4 linked regions of the Homo sapiens genome follow. The protein of the gene in region 4 interacts with the protein of the main gene of each other region in a biochemical or structural test. Each region holds a gene or a part of one and is shown on either strand. Other genes may lie near its edges.

Region 1 (4,279 bases), on a different chromosome or scaffold from region 4:
ACACACTCCCCACCCCAAGACAGGCCCTGTCACCAAACCAGCCTCCCTTCCAGAGAGGAGCGCTCCTTCCATTCTACTCCCCACTCCTCCTCTGCCGGGGGACCTCGATCTCTGCACCCCGTGGGGACCGGGGCCCCGTACCTCAGGGGTGATGGAGCCGCAGAGCTGACTGATGAGGGCGAGTTGGTGCTGCTCCGTGTTGCCCTGCATGATGGGGCTGCGGGTCCACATCTCTGCCATGATGCACCCAGCACCCCACAGGTCAATGGGGGGGCCGTAGTCCCGCTCCCCTGGGAAGAAGAGCGCACCAGGAGGGCCCCTTGAGCCCGAGGGCCTCCTGAGGCTCAATGCCCCAGGGCCGGCAGCTCAAGAAGCCCTGGCAGTTGGGGGGAAGGGGCCAGGTAGATGCCTGGCCCTCACCCCCCTTGGCCCGCTCGGGAGTCCTCACCGAGCAACAGCTCCGGGGGCCGGTACCAGAGTGTCACCACACGGTTGGTGTAGCGGTTGGGCTGGCTGTTCTTGGCCAGGCTGAAGGCCCGGGCCAGCCCAAAGTCTGCCAGCTTCAGGACCCCATCACGAGTGATAAGCACATTAGCAGCCTTCATGTCCCTATGCAGGATCTGCAGGAAGGGCAAGAGTGGGTCCTTTAGTGACATCCACCCGGGAGTGGGAGCCAAGACCAGCCCAAGCCTGGGTCCTCCTCCCAGCTCTGGCCCCCACCTTGTTTCTGTGGATGTAGTAGAGGCCGTTAAGCAGCATCTGCATCACCCTCTTGATCTCAGACAGCGTGAACTTGACCAAAACATTGCTCAACAGCCCAGCAAGGTCATGCTCGCAGAAGTCGAACACCAGGTATATACTACCCTTGCAGCGGTTATAGGGGGAAGCTGAGGCAGGAATAGAAAGAAGAAAAAGTCAAGAAAACCACACCCAACACACTTTCCCACAACCAGCTTCTTTCTTCCTGCTCCAACCCACGGGCACCCATGCCCTCCAGAGCATCTGTCTGTTCCTTCCTTCACCGGTCAAATATTTTCTGAGTGCCTCTTCTGGGCCAGGGCAGGCCCCGAGGAAGCACCAGCTACGATGAAAGAGGACCAGAAAAAGCAGTCACCATGGGTCCATCTGAGTTAAGAAGAGGCAGTTTAGGTGTGCCTAGTTCCAAGTTTACAAACAAAACCTTAGGCTACAAGTGTCATCTTCTCGTAAGAACCAAATAACTTACCTTTGGTTCGACAAATCTCAATCAAGTTGACCACATTCTCGTGTTTTAGAAGCTGAAGGATCTTGATCTCCCGCAAGGCTGTAATGGGGAACTGGGTGAGAAAGAGGGGAAAGTGGTCAAGAGTGAGCGCAGTACAGAGCCCAGCCCTGGGGTCTGTACTGACAGCCAAGTTGGGAGACAGAGCAAGATCATGGGCTCTGAAACCAGCTGTCTCAGAAGCCTTGTCTATAAAATGGATATTAGTAGCATGCACACTTCAAGATGATGGTTTGAGACAACAAACTGAAACAGCAATACTTTGCTATTAGCCACTAAACGCTCGGCGGTTTCAGTCTTCAAATTTCAGCTCTATGGCTGTTTCGTTGGCAACAAACATGATGATTTAAAAATGTCCTTGCTAATGCACATTACGCAAAAGAAGGTTTATGGGAAGTTGTACTAGAGCTAAGATGGGGTGGAGAAGGGACCGCTCCTTTTAAATACATTAAATAATTGAGTATCAGACACCTTTCAAAAAGCATGCATATATAATCTTTCTTTTACATTAAGCGAAATTTAACACTAAAAAAAGGTGTTTAAAGGCTTCCTAACTTCGTGAAATAAAGTGCACACGATGCATGCATCAACTCCCCCTCCTGGCCTCACCCATAACTGCCTAAGAATGAAACATTTAGTTTTAGGGTGGAAGCCACATTCCCTGGAAATTTCTGAACTACTACAAAAAAATTAAATCTCAACCTGAGACTCCCAGAAGCAGCAGGGTGGAAAACCGACCCGGGGTCCCGGGCAGTTAGCCGGCCGGCCCGCACGCCCGATCCGTACTCACCCCCTCCTTCTCGTTTTCCATCAGCACCTTCTTCAGAGCCACCTTCTGGCCGGTCTTGCGGTGCCTGGCCTTGAACACCTCCCTGCAGGCGGAAAGGGAGACCCGAGAACTCATCAGGCCATTTCCGCAGGGCCCGCCCCTCCCCCACTACAGGAGGAGGGGCAGCAGCAAAGAGATTCCCGGGCGGGGCTGGGCTAGGTACCCAGGGCACGCGGCTACCCCGCCACCCGGCAGCCTGTCTCGTTCGGAGCCTCTGCTTCCTTCCCTCAGTCCCTTCTCCTCACTTGGGCGTCCCTTGGAGAGATCCCGCTCCCCTCACGGGCGCCTCTCTGCAGCCCCTCCCCGCCCCCACCACGGGCCTCAGGCTCCTCCCCACCAGCCGGCTCCGTCAGGCCGGGGCGGGGTGCGGCGCGGCCTAGAGACCAGCAGGCAAGCCCGGGGACAGACGACTTCTCTACCAACTCGGGGGGGGCCCGGGCATCCCGACGTCGGCCCTAGGGGTGCAGGCCCAGGGCTCCCGGCCCCGAGGGGCCCAGCCTTACCCGAAGGTGCCTTGGCCGATCTTGGCGAGCTTCTCGTATTTGGAAACTTCATCACAAAAAGGGCACTCCACCGAGTCGTACTGCTTTGCCATGGCCGCCTCCAACGCGCCGCCGCCGCCCCCAGTCGCTGCTGCCGCCGCTCCTGCTCCGGGTCCCGCCGCCGCCGCACTCCAGGCCCCTCCGCGGCCGCGCCACTTCCGCCTCCACGGCCACTTCCGGCCTCGCGGCGCCGACCCCGCCTCTTCCGCCCGCCGCCCACCGCCAGGCCCCCTGGGACTTGTAGTTCCCGAGAGGCCAGGGGGAGCCGGAGCTGCAGAGGCGCCTCCGCCGCCGCCGCCGCTGCCCCCGCCTCCGCCGCCGCCACTACTAGCGGCGGCCCCGATCGGGGGCGCGGGGAGCCGGGGCGCCGGAGCTGGGGCTCGGGGTGGCGCGTCCCGCTGCATGGGCCCGGGCCGCCGCTGCTGCCGAAGCTGCTGCCGCTCTGGCGCCCGATCCGGGGCCAGCCGCAGTGCCCTGCTCCTCCTCCTCCGACGGCGCCGCCTCCGCCGGGCTGCGCGGGGCGGCGGGCGGGGGGTCAGCCCCCGAGCCGCGGCCTGGGAGCTCCCTGGCCGGACCCGGGCCCGGGGCGGCCGGGCGAGGGGGCGAGACGGGAAGAGCCGACTAGGAGACGGCCCGAGAGCCCAGGAGGGGGCGCGTTATAAAGGGGGAGGTGCCCGGCCTCGCCCTCCCCTCCTCCTCCGCCCGCCCCCGCCCTCCTCCCTCCCACCCTCCGCGGCCGCACCTGCCGCCGCCGCCACCGCCCGCCCGCTCGCTGTCCGCCGGCCGCCCTCGGCGCGTCACCGCCCGCGGCCCCTCCTCCGCCTTCGGAGGTGGGGCCCCGCGCTCGGCACCTGGCTGCGGGCGCCCTGCCGCGTGCCTCAGTTTACCCCCACATGTCGGCTGCAGCGGAAAGCCCCTTCCTCCCCGGCTCGGAGTGCCCCCACAGAGGCGAAGGCGGGAGGCGCGGAGGGAGCGTCCTCCGGCCCTGGGAGGAGAGAACGGCCCCCGCCTCCGCCTCCCCCGGTCCCCGCCACCCTCCGTTGACATGGCAACCGACGGCCGCCAGGGGGCGCGGCGGCACTAGCGGCGACGAGCAAGCAACGCCCGGGCCTTCTATCGCTGGGGTCTGGCTCTCCGGGAGGCAGGGATGGGACCCGCAGGACTCCCACCTCCGCTGAGTCGTGCCAGAGCTGGTCGGGCCCCGAGTCAGTAATCGCAAAAAACAGCTACCATTTTCTCAGCACTCTTGTGTACTCAGGAAGTGCTGGGCGTTCCCGCCGAATCCTGAATCAACAGCCCCATAGTCAGGATCACTAACCCATTTTGCAGAAGAAGACGTTGAGGCTCAGAGGTGAGGTCATTTGCCCAAGGTCACACGGCGACAAAGTTGGGACCCGAACCTGGGTGTCTGAGTGAGGGGATTCTCTTGACTCACGCTATTCGCTGTTGGGCCAGGAGGATAGCAGTGGGGAGGCCTGCTGTCCTTATGCAGGCGCGAGCTCACCGTTCACCCCCCCCATCTCCCTCCCCCATCGCGCCCATCCCTTCCCTCGCATCTTCCTGGCTCCAGCGGCCCCCAGATTCCCCCTCCAGCTCTGCCCAAGGACAGCCTCCAGCAAAGCCGTCTTTTCTGCCTCCTCTGCCCCG
Region 2 (3,026 bases), on a different chromosome or scaffold from region 4:
AGGCAGAGGTTGTGGTGAGGCAAGATTGCACCATTGCACTCCAGCCTGGGCAACAAGAGTGAAACTTCGTCTCAAAAAAAAAAAACAACAAAAAATTATTCTCTGCAAATTTGTCTTGCTTCAGAGCAGGGGTTAGCAAAATTTTTCTGTCTAGAGTCATATAGTAAATATTTTAAACTCTGCAGGTCCTGTGGTCTCTGTCTCAGCTACTCAACTCTGCCATTGTAGCATGGAAGCAATTGCAGAAAATATGAAAACAAATGGACGTGACAGTGGGCCAGATTTGCCCTGTGACTGTAGTTAGGGAATAAATATAATTCTGAATTGTTAAATTTACGATTCCAAGTTTGGAAAATCTAATCCAATTGACAATGATATAAAATAACTTATGTGACAATTTGTGAGAAGTCTTTTGTAAAAGTTAAAAGACCCTATAGAAAGGAATTAATCACTGTTTATCAATTAAAAACTACATTTAGATAGTTTGCTTACAGAAGTACTTGTTTTTTTCTTTTTCCTTTTTTTTTTTTGAGATGGAGCTTCACTTGATGCCCAGGCTGGAGTGCAATGGCGCAATGTTGGCTCACCACAACCTGTGCCTCCTGGGTTCAAGCGACTCTCCTGCCTCCGCCTCCTGAGTAGCTGGGATTACAGGCATGCATCACCACAGGGTTTCTCCATGTTGGTCAGGCTGGTCTCGAACTCCCAACCTCAGGTGATCCAGCCGCCTCGGCCTCCCAAAGTGCTGGGATTACAGGCATGAGCCACCACGCCTGGCTGTATTTGTTGTTTTCTTTTGTCCACATTTAATTACTTTAGCCCCCAGCAAGCCAAGATTTCCAAAAGGTTCAGCCAGACCTTTTAGGCTATAAGCAGGAGCCACTGAACAAATACCTATTGGCCAACTACATAAACAAGGCATGCCACAAGGAAAAGCTCTCTGGTGGTGCAGGGATGATGGGCTAACCTGTGTATGGAGCATAGAAGATGATACCCGTGTGGGCGCAGACAAATTGCTCCAAGAGCTTCACGTTCTGTGGGGGAAAGTGGTAGAGAAACGTGAGGAAAAGAGGCAGGGAGAGCAGCAGGATCTTTGGACATCGAAAGTACACAATCCCTACACACCCACATGGACCACCTTCACCCCTCTACAGCTCTCCAGATGCCATCCTCCTTCATGTCCCAGTTTGGCTTCATCAATTCACTGAATCCATCCTTGCACATCCCATATTCTGTCACTGTGCTCCCATAGAAATCTCTTATGCAGAGGTTAAGTTCTTTTTTTTTTTTTTTTTTTTTTTTTTGAGACAGAGTCTCCCTGTGTTGCCCAGGCTGGAGTGCAGTGGCGCGATCTCAGCTCACCACAACCTCCGCCTCCCAGGTTCAAGCAATTCTCTGCCTTAGCCTCCCGAGTAGCTGGGGTTACAGGCGCCTGCCACCACACCTGGCTAATTATTTTGTATCTTTAGTAGAGATGCGGTTTCACCATCTTGGCCAAGCTGGCCTTGAACTCCTGACCTAGTGATACACCCACCTTGGCCTCAGAAAGTGCTGGGATTACAGGCATGAGCCACCGCGCCTGGGCTGCAGAGGTTAAGTTCTAACGTCAGCCTTTAGGTGAAAAACTGGGGCTGGTCATTGGAAATCCCAGAAATCACCCAAAAAATGATATTGTAATGTGTATGTATAAACAACTAATGTATTTAATAGTATGCTGAATATAATTTATATACTAAGAATAATTTTACAATTTACATAGAACTCTCTCTCAGCAAATTAACTAGGAAATGAGACTCTTGAAAAAAAAGCAGGTACATTGTAGAGTAGAATGCAAGCAGAATCACCCATGCTACTAAATTTGTAACATTTCTCTCTCTCAGTTATGTAATTAATTATAATCTCTGTTTTGTTTTGTTTTTGAGACGGAGTCTCGCTCTGCTGCTCAGGCTGGAGTGCAGTGGTGCAATCTTGGTTCACTGTAACCTCCATCTCCCAGGTTCCAGTGATTCTCCTGCCTCAGCCTCCTGAGAAGCTGGGACTACAGGCGCCCGCCATCACACCCAGCTAATTTTTTTTGTATTTTTAGTAGAGACGGCGTTTCACCTTGTTGGCCAGGCTGGTCTCAAACTCCTGACCTCAAGTGATCCACTCACCTTGGCCTCCCAAAGTGCTGGGATTACAAGCATGAGCCACCGCACCTGGCCATAATCTCTTTTTATAACCAATTATATGCAATTGAAACTGGGAAATTATCTATGGGACTCCTAAATAACCTGTGTTAGAAGGGTTCTTATTGCAGTCAAATACCCCCATTTTCTGACTGTTATCCAAATGCTCTACTACTTCCCTGATGATCAGCCATATAGCTTCTGCTCTAATACTTTTGCTGCAAGCTCAGAAGAACACTTTCCCATTATCTGTTTTATTGATATAATGTTTTCAAATTCTTTTTGTTTTGTTTTTCTTTGAGGAGTTTCACTCTTTCGCCCAGGCTGGAGTGCAGTGGTGCAATCTCAGCTCACTGCAACCTCCGCCTCCCGGGTTCAAGCAATTCTCCTGCCTCAGCCTCCCAAGTAGCTGGGATTATAGGCGCCTGCCACCATGCCTGGCTAATTTTTGTATTTTTAGTAGAGACAGGGTTTCACCACGTTGGCCAGGCTGGTCTCAAACTCCTGACCTCAGGTGAAGCACCTGCCTGGGCCTCCCAAAGTGCTAGCATTACAGGCATGGGCCGCCGCACCCAGCCAATATGTTTTCAAATTCTTTAAGGAGCAAATCCTGTCCTTCTCACATATTGAAGGCTTTTTGAAAAATAATGGACTCTATCTTGCTTCATATACCTGCCCTCCAGCCCCAGGTGCCAGCATGGCACTGAACATTGACAAGGAAATAAAGAAAACCTCAGGAAGAAAGTGGGCCAATATATTTGGTAATAACTGTAATGAATACAAACGAATCTTTGGATATTGGCTCTCCCACTAGAAATAGCCATTTCGCTGGCTGGGTGTGGTGGCTCACACCTGTAA
Region 3 (3,500 bases), on a different chromosome or scaffold from region 4:
CAGATAACCAGGAACACCCGACATTCCCGCCTCCCTCCTGGCAAAATGGTGGAGGCAAAGGACACACCTTAGGGGAATCCCAGCTGGACCCACAGGCGCCAGGGGCAGCTCTGCTGTGGGCTGCATGCTTGCTTATGACGGCGGTGATGATGGTGAGGTATTAATAAAAAGGAGCTTGAAATTCATCTGTTTCAAACATCTCCTTTTACAGGTGAATCAATGAAGTCTTGGGAGATGAAGTGATCTGGCTGATGTCACTCACTGTGAGTGTTGGGCCTGGGATCCGGATGAGACTTTGAGACTCTGGATGCAGAGCTCTTCGTAACTTACTGGAAGCTGACCAGCTCCTCAAAGTCACCTCCCATATACCACTCAGGAGGACAGGGCAGCCTTTCACGTCGGAAGTGGGAGAAGAGCCCCAAAGGTGGCGCTCTGGCTCAGGAATCAAAGGAATTGGGTCCCAGCCGCAGCCCCGGCACCAGCAAGCACAAAAGGCTTATCCTCCCAAGGATGCCCTGGGAGCCTCTGGGGGTCCCGCTGGGCTCCCTCACCTGGGCATGGGCCCTGAGAAGTGCTCCATTTCATCAACTTGGTATCTGCACTTCTTGGTAGGATTTTACCAAATAAAGAGTTCAGAGCTAAGTAAGTTTAAAACCACGGAATACATGGTCCTGCCCAGTACATTTAGCACCCATCATTTTGGCTATGGTGGCCGAGGTCTTGGGGTGCAGGGGTGATGGCTTTGCTTCTGTTCACCAATAGGGGGAGAGAGATACGCACTCTGACGCTGAAGAAGAAAGGGAAGGCCAGGTCAGGCTTTCCCCATCTCTCTTCTCCAACCTGCAGTCAGGTGGAAGTTCAAAGGGCCAGAACCAGAGTGTTCACAGGCCAGGGACGTCACTGGGCACGCACCTCATCTGCCACCCCCATAAGAGGACCAGCATACCCTGTCCTTGTGGGGCAGGGCTGCCATGGCAAGGGAATGCCCATGCAACTGCAAGGCCTGCTGGGAGGAGCTGGGGAGGGGGCTGGTTGGAGGGCGATGAGCAGCCTGCTACCCATTCATCTTACAGCCAGAGGGAAGAGCGATGGCAAGCACCACACTGCCTGGCTGCTTGTCCCCACAGGGCATGCTAACGACTCCCCCTCAGTCCCATGACCTCGCGGCTTCAGGGGTAGCTCAGAGACTTGCAGATGGAAAGACGGGTTTCCATTCTTCCTTCCCAGCACCCATCAAGGCGAAATCTCCCACTCTAGATCAAGGGCCAAGTCATCGAACTTCTCTGGGCCACCACTGTCTCCCTCTCACTTGGCGATGGAATCTGAGGGAACACCTGTAGGTAAAGCCAGGGAAGGGGCTAGGACAGCACAATGGGTTCTAGTCAACAATGGGGCTCTGGCCTTGGCGTGGGGAGGCCTGGGGGTGGCTACCGTGTGTGGCACAAATACCAAGGTGCAGCATCTTAGGGTGGGCTTCTAGTGAAGAAAGAGGGGATGTGGGTGCCTGGAGAGGGAGGGTGAGCACCTCCCCCTACCCGGTGCCAGGTGTAAACTCAATGCCATTGGCTCTGCTAGACTAACTGGAATCATCCACCGAGCATGGTATCACATCTCAACAATCTCCCAGTGCCAGAGTGCGAACCCAGGTCATCTCCAATGGCCTTCTTTCCTCGCTTGCAGACCTGGGTGTTCTATCAGCAGAGCGGCAACCAGGGAAGCTATGGCTCAGTTCTGCTTCCCCAGTTTTGGAAACTCCAGGAACAGGAATGCTAGGAGCTGTAGTCAGGAAGATCCCCCGCCCAACCCACCCATGCCTGCACTGCCCAGGACCTGCTGCAGAGGGATACCAGCAGCTTGCGGCCCTTGCTCTTCCAGAAGCCATTTTAGGCTGAGCAGGGAAGGAAGGAGGGCTCCTCTCCGCCTTGCCACCATCTTAATCCAGAGCCCCATAAAGCAAGACCGCCACTTCGCCACACTTACGCGGCCCCTCTATGTTCTCCTGCTCTCCCTTCCCCTTTCACACACAAATACGCTCCCCACACACTGCAGAACCACTGCCAGCTCTTTCACAACCAGCTTTTCCCATCAAATAGCTGCACGGCCTGAGGGTTGGCGGCCATCTCTCGGGACCCCCACCCTCCACCCACTGTGGACCTCCGAGACCCTGGCCGCAGGTGTTTCATCAGCTCCAGGACGGAACATCCAGGACTGCGAGAAAAGGAGGGAAGTGTGCGATTTGAGGAGCAGGTGAGGGCAACAGCTCGGGTTGGGGAATCTGCATCTCCTACCTCTGCCTCTCAGTCACTCTGTGCCCGCTACTGGCCAGAGTCCTGGGTCCTTGCCCATTCATCACACCCTGGCCCCACAATGCACAATCGCCTCTCCATGGAAGGTGTTTCCTTCAAGAAAAGCGGCCTTCGGTGTTTGTACTGTGAGGCCGACTGTTGTAAAACTCCACGCAGCCAGGATTCTATGTGACTCAGTCAGTTGCACAAACCCAAGTGCAGATGAGGGAAAGCAACTTCTTTCGATACAGGCCCCTCCTTTCCAGACCCAGGAAACTGCCGAGGACCTACCTGTGCTCTGCCCTGTCAACGCCTGAGGCTTAGTGCCTAGCACACCATTTTCATGTGGTTTGGGGGTGTCCTTTCCTAGTCCCTGACCAAAGCTAGTTCAAGGCCCCCAAAACACAGTCTTTATAACTGCCTCTGTATCCCTCTGGGCCTCTGTCCTCAGTCTCTGAATCCCAGGCTCCCTACTCTGGCCCCGGAGCTGGCAGCCAGCCCAAAGATCTGGGCAAGAAGGCCACGGGTGGGGGATGGGATCCCCGGTTTTCGAGAATGGGTCTAGACGGAATCTGGGGATCTGCCCACACCCCGGTAACTCCACCCAGCACCCCTACCCCAATCAGAGATCAGAGAGGAGGAAGGGGCAGTTAGACCCCAAAAGATCTGTTAGTCAAGAGACAGTGTTGAGCAGAGCTCTGGCTATCAACAGCTGGGCAGTGGGGGAGTTTAGGGTCGGGGGTCAGCTGTCCTTGGGCCAGAGAGAAAGAACTGGCTGACCCCTCCCCCACAGTGAATCATGATGAGAGAGGAAGGAGACAGCCGAGCCTGGGAGACAAAATGACAGGTCACTGGAGGACTGACCTCTCGGGCCCGGGCCAGACAGCAGAAGGGAAGGAAGCCAGAGTGACCACTATCCAAAAGGCAGCAGGGGTCCACAGGGGTCCTAAGAACCGCCCCCAGGGCTGCAGGAAGGATAACGGACTCTCCCACCAAGGGGCACAGGGCGCATGTGCACGCCATGAGGCCTGGCCTGCATCCAGGAGAACAGGACTACAGAAAACCAGCAAGGGGAAACCTGTGCCCTAGATGAACAGGCAGGGGGCCGGGAGGACTCCACACTCAAGCCTGCAAGTGCAGAACACACAGGTCCTGCTAGAAACACGTAAGGGCAGCCAGAAAAGGAAAGCCATCATATCCACTTTAGTCGGAACA
Region 4 (3,500 bases):
AAAAAGAATAAACATACAGAGCAATGGAATAGAACTGAGACTCCAGAAATAAACCCTGGTTTTTATAGTCAACTGATTTTCATCAAGGGCACCAAAACAATTCAATGAAGAAAGAATAGTCTTTTCCATAAGTGGTGCAGAGACAACTGGATATCCACATTCAAAAGACTGGAGTTAGACCTCTTCCTCACATCATACACAAAAATTAACTCAAAAAAAAAAAACAAAAAAAAACCCAAGACTGACAAGAACTAAAAACCATATGACTTTTAGAAGAAAGCACAGAATAAGTCTTCATGACCTTGGGTTAGTCAAGGCCTTCTTAGATACAACATCAAAAGCCCAAGCAACCAAAAAAAAAACCACCACCAAAAAAAAAATAGAAAACTGGACTTCATCAAAATTAAAATCCTACGCTGCAAATGACATCATCAAGAAAGTGAAAAGGCAACTCACAGAATGGGGGGAAAAGTCTGCAAATAATATATCTTATAAGAGATATGCATAAAGGAGAAGCTTTAACTGCATCTTAAAAACAGAATTTAGGCTAAAAGAAAAAAGAAGGGTATTCCAAAAAAAGGGGAGATCGCATGAATATGAATACTATCATATTCATATGGAAGATATTCATATGGAAGATTCATATGGAAGGGAAGAGAACACAGGCATTGGGGGCCAACAATGGAAATAAAAAATAAGACTGGAAGGAAGGTTAAAGCACAGACCATGAAGAACTACAAATACTGAGAAAGTTTGGACTTTACTTCTTCATAATGGTGGTGGGAGCATGGGAGGGTGTTACAATGGAGGCTACTGAGAGTGGGTTGTAACAATGAAAAATAAATTTTAAAGCAAAAGGGGCAAACTGTACACCAGTCTTTTCTAAAAATCAGGCACAGGATGGATTGGATGGAGAAAAGAAGAGACTAGTCAGAAAGAGGCACTAAAACATGCATAAAAAATGCTCAAGTCAATGACATAAGCTTCCACCTTCTGAAATTAAAAAAATAAAAAGGAAATTAAAACCAAAGCAAACAGTAAAAACCAAGCACTGCTGGTAAAAGAAATGAAGGGACAGACGTGAGAGGCAATGCAAAAAGATAACTTGAGACTGAACGGATAGGTTTAAAATAGAAGGAGTCTGGTATAGTTTTAATTAGTCCTATGGACAGACACTGAATACCAAGGTAAACCTGTAAAGAAAGCAAATGGTAGTGTAAAATTCCACTTCTTCCTAGAATGCAGAAAGCTGCAAAGAGTATTGCTCCCACCCTCACAACAAGAACAAGCCAGATAAGGAACAAAAACAACCTTTCTTGAAATCAACATATCCTTTCCTTATATTTCAGATTATTTAATTTCCCCTAAAAAAAGGAACCTCCAATGAGAGAAAAGATATAAATAATGGCTCATCTGTGGCACAACATGAAAGGAAGAGACACAGGGAACCCTAACAAAAGTAAAAAGTATTCAGCTAAAAATTTTTAATGAATGCTGATTACAAAACAACAAAAATCCATTTAAATATAAAAAAGAAATAGGTTAAAATCAAAATGAAGGTAAACGATACACATTGTAAAGAGTGATCACAAGAAAAGTGGAATCGATATGTGGACACTGCAGAACAAAAGATATAAATTTGGATAAAAAAGCACATTACATAATGATAAAGGTACCAATTTACCTAAAAGGCATAAAAATTCTAAACTTGTATGTACCCAAGGATAAAGCTTTAAAATACACTAATAAAGGCCAGGCACAGTGGCTCACGCCTGTAATGCCAGCACTTTGGGAGGCCGAGGGCAGATCATGAGGTCAGGAGTTCGAGACCAGCCTGACTAACACGGTGAAACCCCGTCTCTACTAAAAATACAAAAATTAGCCGGGTGTGGTGGCGCATGCCTATAATCCCAGCTACTCGGGAGGCTGAGACAGGAGAATCGCTTGGACCCGGGAGGCAGAGGTTGCAGTGAGCCGAGATCGTGCCACGCACTCCAGCCTGGGTGACAGAGCAAGACTCCATCTCAAAATAAAATAAAATAAAAAATACATTAATAAAAAACAGAATTTAAAAGGACCATTCTAATTATAGTTGGAGGCTTCATATTTCTCCCTCAATAATTAGTAAAACACATAGAAAGAAAATCAGTAAGGATATGGATGATCTACTGTACCTTTTCTATGTATAGATATACAAATACTTACCATTGTGTTACAATTGCCTACAATGTTCAGTACAGTAACATGCTGTACACATTTGCAGACTAGGAGCAACATGCTATATACCACACAGCATAGGTGTGTCATAGGCTATACCATCCAGGTTTGTGTAAGTACATGCTATGATGTTCACACAACGATGAAATCACCTAATGATGCATTTCTCAGATGTGTTCCCATTGTTAAGCAACACATGACTGTATTTATTTAAAATATAACCACCATATCACAAAAATAAGTAAGTGGTTCTATCAAGAGCAATATATCCCAAAGCTCTTTGAGATATGTATATCATACATTTCATATACATATATATGTATGTATAACAAAAAGCCTATGAGGTTCACATTCAGGCATTATTTCTGCCTTACAGGTGAGCAAACTGAGACTCACAGAATTAACCAATTTGCCTAAAATCATATAGCTACAATATAATTACAACCAAAGTTTCCTGCCTTGAGGTCCAAGGCATTTTCCATTCTACCATACTACCAATCAAGATGCAGAAAGTAAACCAAAATTCTAACAGCTGATTCACCTTAAGTCACAATATGAACATCACCTTAGCCAATTTCTTAATGGAAAGTCCTATTCATATGCTATAATCAGCATAAATACAATCTAACCTTATGAACAAAGCTAATCTTTATTATTACACTTTACTAAATATTTATTTTAAAAAAAGAAAACACTTTTCTAGACAAAATACCACAAACTTTTCCTTTAAAGGGATTAATATATGCTTTCATGTATGCATAAACAACTTTTCTGATGCTAAAGTACTTAAAAATAAGAATTTTAACAAACATTACTACATCAAAATCACTACAATGCATTTAAAATTGTAACCATTTTAACTGATATCCTAAGTTCTCCTAAAAAAAAATACATCAATGATAAAATTTTCTGGGGTATTTCTTAAGTAAAATTATTCTGTTTGCAAGACCTAATATACATACTCATTGACTCTAATAAGAGCTTTATATGCATTAATTTATTTAATCTGCACATAACTCCAAGATCCAGAAATTACTGTCAGTCCCTTTTACAGGTAAGAAAACTAAGGCTTGAAAATTGTAGATAACATGTTCAAGATAATGGAGTTCGGACATGGTATATCTGTTTGACTCTTAATCCTTGCTCTTAACCCATCCTCTATCCCAATAAACATCACCTACTTTCTATTGTTAAAAAGGGTTTCCTTTTTGACAATATTCCTCCTCTTGTTTCAAAGAAGAGAGACAACTGCCACTAGAATAGCTGCACTGGAAACACATTTA

What was found. Proteins that work in one complex are often made in the same cells at the same time.
Region 1: of the proteins of RB1 (region 4) and CDK9, one has a biochemical effect on the other in vitro, tested with the Homo sapiens proteins (4 studies listed by BioGRID, with this or other methods).
Region 2: the proteins of RB1 (region 4) and MRPS18B form a complex in vitro, tested with the Homo sapiens proteins (2 studies listed by BioGRID and IntAct).
Region 3: of the proteins of RB1 (region 4) and CCND2, one has a biochemical effect on the other in vitro, tested with the Homo sapiens proteins (4 studies listed by BioGRID).

Annotation. Positions count from the first base shown.
Region 1 is NC_000009.12:127,784,555-127,788,833, reverse strand, and holds the start of CDK9 (cyclin-dependent kinase 9), read right to left. Parts: upstream 2,801-4,279; 5' UTR 2,686-2,800; coding exon 2,594-2,685; intron 2,134-2,593; coding exon 2,052-2,133; intron 1,317-2,051; coding exon 1,226-1,316; intron 888-1,225; coding exon 721-887; intron 621-720; coding exon 449-620; intron 291-448; coding exon 142-290; intron 1-141. UniProt on the Homo sapiens protein: Protein kinase involved in the regulation of transcription.
Region 2 is NC_000006.12:30,620,840-30,623,865, reverse strand, and holds part of MRPS18B (small ribosomal subunit protein mS40), read right to left. Parts: intron 1,035-3,026; coding exon 968-1,034; intron 1-967.
Region 3 is NC_000012.12:4,280,262-4,283,761, reverse strand, and holds part of CCND2 (G1/S-specific cyclin-D2), read right to left. Parts: intron 1-3,500. UniProt on the Homo sapiens protein: Regulatory component of the cyclin D2-CDK4 (DC) complex that phosphorylates and inhibits members of the retinoblastoma (RB) protein family including RB1 and regulates the cell-cycle during G(1)/S transition.
Region 4 is NC_000013.11:48,310,251-48,313,750, reverse strand, and holds part of RB1 (retinoblastoma-associated protein), read right to left. Parts: intron 1-3,500. UniProt on the Homo sapiens protein: Tumor suppressor that is a key regulator of the G1/S transition of the cell cycle. The hypophosphorylated form binds transcription regulators of the E2F family, preventing transcription of E2F-responsive genes.